Homo sapiens: one gene and its partner. Changing the gene in region 1 together with any one later gene gives a genetic interaction. Each region holds a gene or a part of one and is shown on either strand. Other genes may lie near its edges.

Region 1 (3,648 bases):
AGCGCAAATTACATTACACCAAGAAGCAGAATCTTCAAGATTGGGTTAAAAGCTGCAGGTTGTAAAACATGAGAAAAAGCACCATTTTGGGGACCTTTTTTCTCATGTGAATTAGTGCCATGAAATTTCAAAGAACTAAATTTAATCAAGTATTGGATATTTCTGAGGCCCTGAAAAAAACTAACATTCTGTGCTTAAGATTTTATATAAGTAATTACCCTATACAGGTTATCATTATATCACTGCAACCTCCATCTCCTGAGTTCAAGCGGTTCTTCTGCTCCAGCTTCTCAAGTAGCTGGGATTACAGGTGCGTGCCACCACTCCCAGCTAATTTTTGTATTTTTAGTAGAGATGGGGTTTCACCGTGTTGGGCAGGCTGGTCTCAAACTCCTGGCCTCAAGTGAGCTGCCTGCCTCGGCCTCCCAGCCTCTATACAGATAATTTTTTAAGGTAAAAATGATGTTTATAAGAATAGTAAATTAATTCATTTGGAACTTAATATGCTTCATTTTAAGTTAGCTTTATGGATATCGTATTATAAGTTGGTTAATCATTAAGTTTTTTTACTTTGTAAGTAGCGTAGGAATATGTACTCATTGTGGAGGAAAATTGACATGGAAGCATGTAGGGTAATAAATCAGCCTTTCTTTATACCCCTTCCTCATATTTGTTTATTTAAAAGTCTGTGTGGTGAGTGTCAAAAGTCATGAGGGAAGAATCCCTAGGTTTTTATTTTTATATGCACTGTTTAACACTTGTATTTGATGATTATATGTTTTCTTAAATTTTTTTTCACAGAGAATATGAAACTGGTGTCAAAATGACATCCAGATTTGGGAAAACATACAGTAGGAAAGGTGGAAATGGCAGTTCAAAATTCGATGAAGTCTTTTCCAACAAACGGACTACCCTTAGCACAAAATGGGGAGAGACCACATTTATGGCTAAATTAGGGCAGAAGAGGCCCAATTTCAAACCAGATATCCAAGAAATTCCGAAGAAACCTAAAGTGGAAGAAGAAAGTACTGGAGATCCTTTTGGATTTGATAGTGATGATGAGTCTCTACCAGTTTCTTCAAAGAATTTAGCCCAGGTTAAGTGTTCCTCTTATTCAGAATCTAGTGAAGCTGCTCAGTTGGAAGAGGTCACTTCAGTACTTGAAGCTAATAGCAAAATTAGTCATGTGGTCGTTGAAGACACTGTCGTTTCTGATAAATGCTTCCCTTTGGAGGACACTTTACTTGGGAAAGAAAAGAGCACAAACCGAATTGTAGAAGATGATGCAAGCATAAGTAGCTGTAATAAATTAATAACTTCAGGTAAGTTTTGATTTTCTTTATTCTCCGCCAAGAGAGCTTTGTGCAACCAATTTATTTAAATGATTTAAATTCTAAAATATATATTGTGTTTTCTTTCTGCACTTATGATACATGGGGACCATTGATAGTTTTGTAAAAGACATTTAAGAACTTTAAAGAAACCAGTTGGAGGTTGAAATAAACAACTTGGATGTTAACATTTATAGACTGTTGCGCAGGGTACGTTTTGGGAACAGTCATAAGTTTATAACCCCAATTCCAATAAGAAATATCTCTTTTTGTTGTGTTAGGATCACAAAGTATCTCATTTCTATTACTGTGGAGGATTTGGATGGTTATTGATAATGAAAATGAGATGAGTATTTAAAATGAGGATTAGTTACCAATGGTAGACTCTCTGCCAAAACTAGTTCAGAAAGATTAAGGGGGTATTGAGTGGAGACATTTAAAGAATTGAACTTGATTCCAAATTGAGATTAGTTTGGGGCCAGTATCAACTTGTATTGATAGATTTTTTTTTTTGAGAAGGAGTCTCGCTGTCGCCCATGCTGGCTCCGCCTCCCAGGTTCATGCCATTTTCCTGCCTCAGCCTCCCGAGTAGCTGGGACTACAGGCGCCCGCCACCACGCCTGGCTAATTTTTGTATTTTTAGTAGAGACAGGGTTTCACTGTGTTAGCCAGGATGGTCTCCATCTCCTGACCTCGTGATCTGCCCGCCTCACCTCCCAAAGTGCTGGGATTACAGGCATGAGCCACCGTGCCCGGCTGTGTTGATAGATTTTAAACCACAAAACTGGTTGTATTTTAAAAATGTTAATTTGTAAATATAGCATCTAGTATTCTCTCCTAAAACGATATATTTTGTTCTGTCTTCTGTAAGGGATTTGAGATTTATAATAAGTGAAAAAGGTGCAATTAATTAAAAGACTGAAGAGCTAATATTGAGGGTGGCAGGGAAGAGGTGGGGTGGAGAAGTGGGAGCACTCTATCAGCATTAGGATAAGGGTGGCAGTATACTGTAATTGAAAAGAAACCTTAGTTCTTGACGTCTTGGCAAAGTTTAGCAATAATGAGAGGTTATAAAAATCTCCTATTTTGAAAGGAAGTAAACACAGACAAAACTTGGCTGTACTGAATTCTTAAGGCAAATTTGTCCTTTGAAGGTTAAGGTATGTGAAACAGTACAATGTACTGGGCCTTGCATAGTTTTACTAAAAATGTTGAGCATTTTTTCACTCTTTTTCTCACTCTTGGATGAGACGATGAGCCAGCTGTTATTGTCATTCCCTTGATCCTCAGGGTTAATTCTAATTTGGCTGTCCTTCCTGCTTTGCCCACATTTCTCCTCAGGCGTTGTTGACAAGTTAAGTTTAGGTTAAATTTCCATTAAAAAACAGCGTAAAGGACCTGTGCAGTGGCTCATGCCTGTAATCCCAGCACTTTGGGAGGCCAAGGCAGTTGGATCACCTGAGGTCAGGAGTTCAAGACCAGCCTGGCCAACATGGTGAAACCCCATCTCTATTAAAAATACAAAAAATTAGCTGGGCATGGTGGCGGGTGCCTCTAAATCCCACCTACTACGGAGGTTGAGGCAGGAGAATCACTTGAACCCAGGAGACAGAGGTTGCAGTGAGCCGAGATCGCACCACTGCACTCCAGCCTGGGCAACAAAGCAAGATGCCATCTCAAAAAAAAAAAAAAAAAAAGGCATAGACAGCATAAAAACTGTTTCCAGGTCAGCTCCTAAAAATGTATAAATGTATATTAAAATCATCAAACTTTTTTTTTTGAGACACAGTCTCGCTGTGTTGCCCAGGCTGTAGTACAGTGGCGCAGTCTTGCCTCACTGCAACCTCCGCTTCCCGGATTCAAGTGATTCTCCCACCTCAGCCTCCCCAGTAGCTGGGATTATAGGCACCTGCCATCATGCCCAGGTAATTTTTGTATTTTTGTAGGGACAGGTTTTCACCGTGTTGGCCAGGCTAGTCTCAAACTCCTGACCTCAAGTGATCTGCCTATCTAGGCCTCCCAAAGTGCTGGGATTGCAAGCGTGAGCCATCGCTTCTGGCCCATCAAACTTTTTTTGAACTAAAATGAATTTTAACTCAGCTCTCATTTTATATAAGAAGCTCAAAGAGGTTAAATGACTGTCCAAGGTCAGCTAGTGGCAGAACTGGAATGAGATTCGTTTATTATCAACATATTGAGCACCTACTGTCCGTCAAACCACTGTACAAGGCTCTGCGAATGCTATTCTGCTTGTGTTTGTTGTTCCAACTGACATTTCTTTTTTTTCTTTTTTTTTTTTGAGATGAAGTCTCGCTCT
Region 2 (3,748 bases), on another chromosome or scaffold:
GACAGCTGTCATACAGAGACAACAACAAAGCAACATCTAAGTCTTTATTAAGGTGAGTTTTTACAAACAAGCATCTATCCCAGTGTGGGGGATGAGGATGGGAGAGGAAAGCGGGGCAGGAAGATGAGGATTCTCATCTATTGATAATAAAGCTCCAGGTTCATCCCATCGTGGATTTCATCTGAAGGAAAGGTGTTAAGGAATCCTGACTCTGACTTCCGTCCCCACCCCTCTCATCCATTCACAGCCGGGTCAGGTGGCCTGAGGTCTCAGCCCAGGGCTAAGGAAGCCCATTTTGGACCAGGCCATTTTTATTTGGAGAGAACCAAAACTTTACAAAAGAATTTCTGGCTGGGTGCAGTGGCTCACACCTGTAATCCCAGCACTTTGAGAGGACGAAGCAGGTGGCTCACTTGACGTCAGGAGTTTGAGACCAGCCTGGCCAACACGATGAAACCCTGTCTCTACTAAAAATACAAAAAGTTAGCTGGGTGTGGTGGTGGGCACCTGTAATCCCAGCTACTTGGAAGGCTGAGACAGGAAAATCGCTTAAACCTGGGAGGTAGAGGCTGCAGTGAGCCAAGATTGTACCACTGCACTCCAGCCTGGGCAACAAGAGCAAAACTCCATCTCAAAAAAAAAAAAAAAAGTTTCTGTTCCTTCTAGGCCAGGCACAGTGGCTCACGGCTATAATCCCAGCACTTTGGGAGGCCGAGGCGGGAGGATCACTTGAGGCCAGGAGTTTGAGACTAGCCTGGCATACATGGTGGAACCTCATCTCTACTAAAAATACAAAAACTAGCAGGGAGTGGTGGCACACACCTGTAATCCCAGCTACTTGGGAAGCTGAGGCAGAATTGCTTGAACCCGGGAGGTGGAGGTTGCAGTGGGTCAAGATCGTGCCACTGCACTCCAGCCTGGGCGACAGAGCCAGACTGTCTCAAAAAAATAAATAAATAAAATAAAAATTGTAAAAAGTTTCTGCTCCTTTTGCACAATAGATATGCCTGAGTCTCACCCCACCCTGACCTACTGTCCAGCACTCAGGTGGAGGTCAGTAATAAATATTTTGAACTTGAAGTCAAACTATTTCACCAACCACTCTCCTCCCCAACCAAATAATTACCTAGCTCCCATTTTCTAAGTGCTCACCATGTGCCACGTATTAAGTTAAACACTTAATATGCATAAGCTCATGCAGACTTTAGTTTTGAACAGATAACCGAGGCTGGGTATGTAGATGCTTCCTCAAAAAGTCACACAAAGGATACAGTCCCCCAGAGACACGTGGTCCTTAAAAATCGTGTACCTAAGAAAAAGAGACATTTCAGAGATAAGGCTAAGGAGGCTCTTCAGTCTGTAGGCCAAATGAGGTAGCCAAGCCTAAGCAAAGGGCTGCCTGCAGCGCTCCCCCAACCAAAACCTTCCGGCCTAGTCCAGTCCACCCAGTGGCTCTACCGCTGCACTCACCACTTCTTCAGGACAATCTTGTTCCAACGGGTACCAGTTTGGGCTGCAATCAGCTTCTTAAGGTCCCCGATGGTATCATCCGTGCTGGGCGCAGAGCAGTTAAGGCAAATGGAAGCGGTAGAACGAGGAAGAGGACATTCTAGGGCAGAATACCATCTGCCAGGACCCCATCCGCCCCCTCTCCCGGGTTTAACTAAAACCATCCGACAACACAGATTGAGTTGCCTGCCTCACGCCAAGCACCCCTGCGGGTACCACTGCCTCTCGGCTGCCAGTGGATACTTGCATTTAACGCGGACCTTCTTCCCCAGACGGTCGTTGCAAACAACCTCGATCATCCTAGCTGGAGCTACACAAAGCGGGGGGTGGGTGGGAGGCAGCAAAGTCAGAGCTTCAGGCGTCTCCCAGGCCCAGAAGCCCCAGCCTACAAGTCTCCCAGTCCCAGGCCCTAAAATTCCAGGTTACTGAGCCTTCCGTTCTGCCCCCAACCCCCCGGACTCGAATACTCCCAGGCCCCAAGTCCCCTGTCCCAGGGCCGCGAACCCCGGGGAGCCGCGCCTCCGCCCCTTCTCGCCGCCTGAAAGCCCTGCCACAAAACTCCCTGGCCTCACCTCCCACCGACCCCAGACCCTGGGTGGCTGGGTCGCGACAGCTTTCTCCGACTCCGAGCCTCTCCGCTTGACCCCCTCACCTCGAATCGCCTCGAACCTGCCGACGCCACCAGCTCCTCACCCGAGCGCTGAACCCCGGTCGCAGTTAACGCTAGGAACCGGAAGCGGAAGTTAAAGTTCGAGGCCGGAAGCCCTGCCCCTAGCCAGGGGGTGTGGTCAACACTGGGACAAGTTCTTCCGGGTCTGCAGTCTGTGGTGTGTTTGCTGTTCCCAGGTACGGTTTCGGTGTCCCAAGGCTTGACAGGTGTCGCGCCTGTGGTAGGCGCGCCGGGTAGAGAGGGGGGCCTCGGCGGGTTTGTGGCCAGGGAAGGGGCGTGGAGCGAGAGTCAGAGGTCAGGCGCCGGCGCCCAGCTCGTTTGAAGTCATTGTTTGTTGCAGGGAGACTCGGTCACATGGTGGGGACGCCAGAGGGTCCCGGGAGTAGGGGTAAGCTCCTGATCCTGAGCCCGAAGCCTCTTGCAGCGGCAACTAGGAGCAAGGGCGGAGGGTGGGGGTGGGGGACGAGTTCTGCAGTCATCCCTTCTGACCCCCTGGGTTCATTCAGGGCTGGGCTTGGTGAGCATTTGGCTCACCTCTTCCCTCTGGCCATCGCGTTCCCCCGGGATACGGACTCCAGTCAGTAGGCGAAGCTTGATCCTAGAGTAGACTCTACGCTGCCCAACAGCTGCTGTTACCGCATGGTGCCGGACAGTTCCAGGCTCTTGGTGTCCTGAAGAAAGATTTGGACCAGACACACAGAGATGGCAAAGCTGCAAGTTTATTAAGCACAGTATTCCACTCTCGGAGTGGGGAGAGCGGACTGACCTCTGCGAGATAAGATCAGCCCCAGCTTGGTATAGTTTGGGTCTTTTTTTTTTTTTTTTTCTGAGACGTAGTCTCGCTCTGTTGCACAGGCTGGAGTGCAATGGCGCGGTGCCGGCTCACCGCAACCTCCGCCTTCCGGGTTCAAGCGATTCTCCTGCCTCAGCCTCCCGAGTAAGTAGCTGGGATTACAGGCGCCCGCCACCACGCCCGGCTAATTTTTGTACTTTTAGTAGAGATGGGGTTTCACCTTATTGGCCAGGCTTTTTTTCTCTTCCCAAGGCTGCCTAATATCTAGCCAGTGTCTACCTTTTTGAATGATAGGTGTGTTGCTTACTTTGGCCCCTGTGTGCTTGAGAGCCGCCTCCATTCATGATATGCCGTCCATATGCATGAGCGCTAATGAGCTGGTTATCCTTATCATGTTAAGGATACTTTTTGTCTTTAATGCGCGTGCTTATGCCTAAAGAGCTGCTCCTTACTGGTTTGGTCCTGATTTCCCCGGCCGTGGGATTTTTACTGTTTTTTTTTTAATTTTATTTATTTATTTATTTATTTATTTATGGAGTCTCGCTCTGTCGCCCAGGCTGGAGTGCAGTGGCGTGATCTGGGCTCACGGCAAGCTCCGCCTCCCGGGTTCACGCCGTTGTCCTGCCTCAGCCGCCTCCCGAGTAACAGGGACTACAGGCGCCCCCCACCACCCTCGGCTAATTTTTTTGTATTTTTAGTAGAGACGGGGTTTCACTGTGTTAGCCAGGATGGTCTCGATCTCCTGACCTCGTGATCCGCCTGCCTCAGCCTCCCAA

What was found. A genetic interaction does not mean that the proteins touch.
Region 2: changes in WAPL (region 1) and UBL5 are lethal when combined (synthetic lethality), as found in Homo sapiens cells (one study listed by BioGRID).

Annotation. Positions count from the first base shown.
Region 1 is NC_000010.11:86,515,245-86,518,892, reverse strand, and holds part of WAPL (wings apart-like protein homolog), read left to right. Parts: intron 1-801; 5' UTR 802-823; coding exon 824-1,322; intron 1,323-3,648. UniProt on the Homo sapiens protein: Regulator of sister chromatid cohesion in mitosis which negatively regulates cohesin association with chromatin. Involved in both sister chromatid cohesion during interphase and sister-chromatid resolution during early stages of mitosis.
Region 2 is NC_000019.10:9,826,398-9,830,145, reverse strand, and holds UBL5 (ubiquitin-like protein 5), read right to left. Parts: upstream 2,229-3,748; 5' UTR 2,162-2,228; exon of another isoform or gene 2,082-2,161; intron 1,820-2,081; 5' UTR 1,809-1,819; coding exon 1,753-1,808; intron 1,555-1,752; coding exon 1,471-1,554; intron 1,310-1,470; coding exon 1,272-1,309; intron 182-1,271; coding exon 138-181; 3' UTR 31-137; downstream 1-30. UniProt on the Homo sapiens protein: Ubiquitin-like protein that plays a role in cell proliferation and sister chromatid cohesion by associating with spliceosomal proteins. Participates thereby in pre-mRNA splicing by maintaining spliceosome integrity.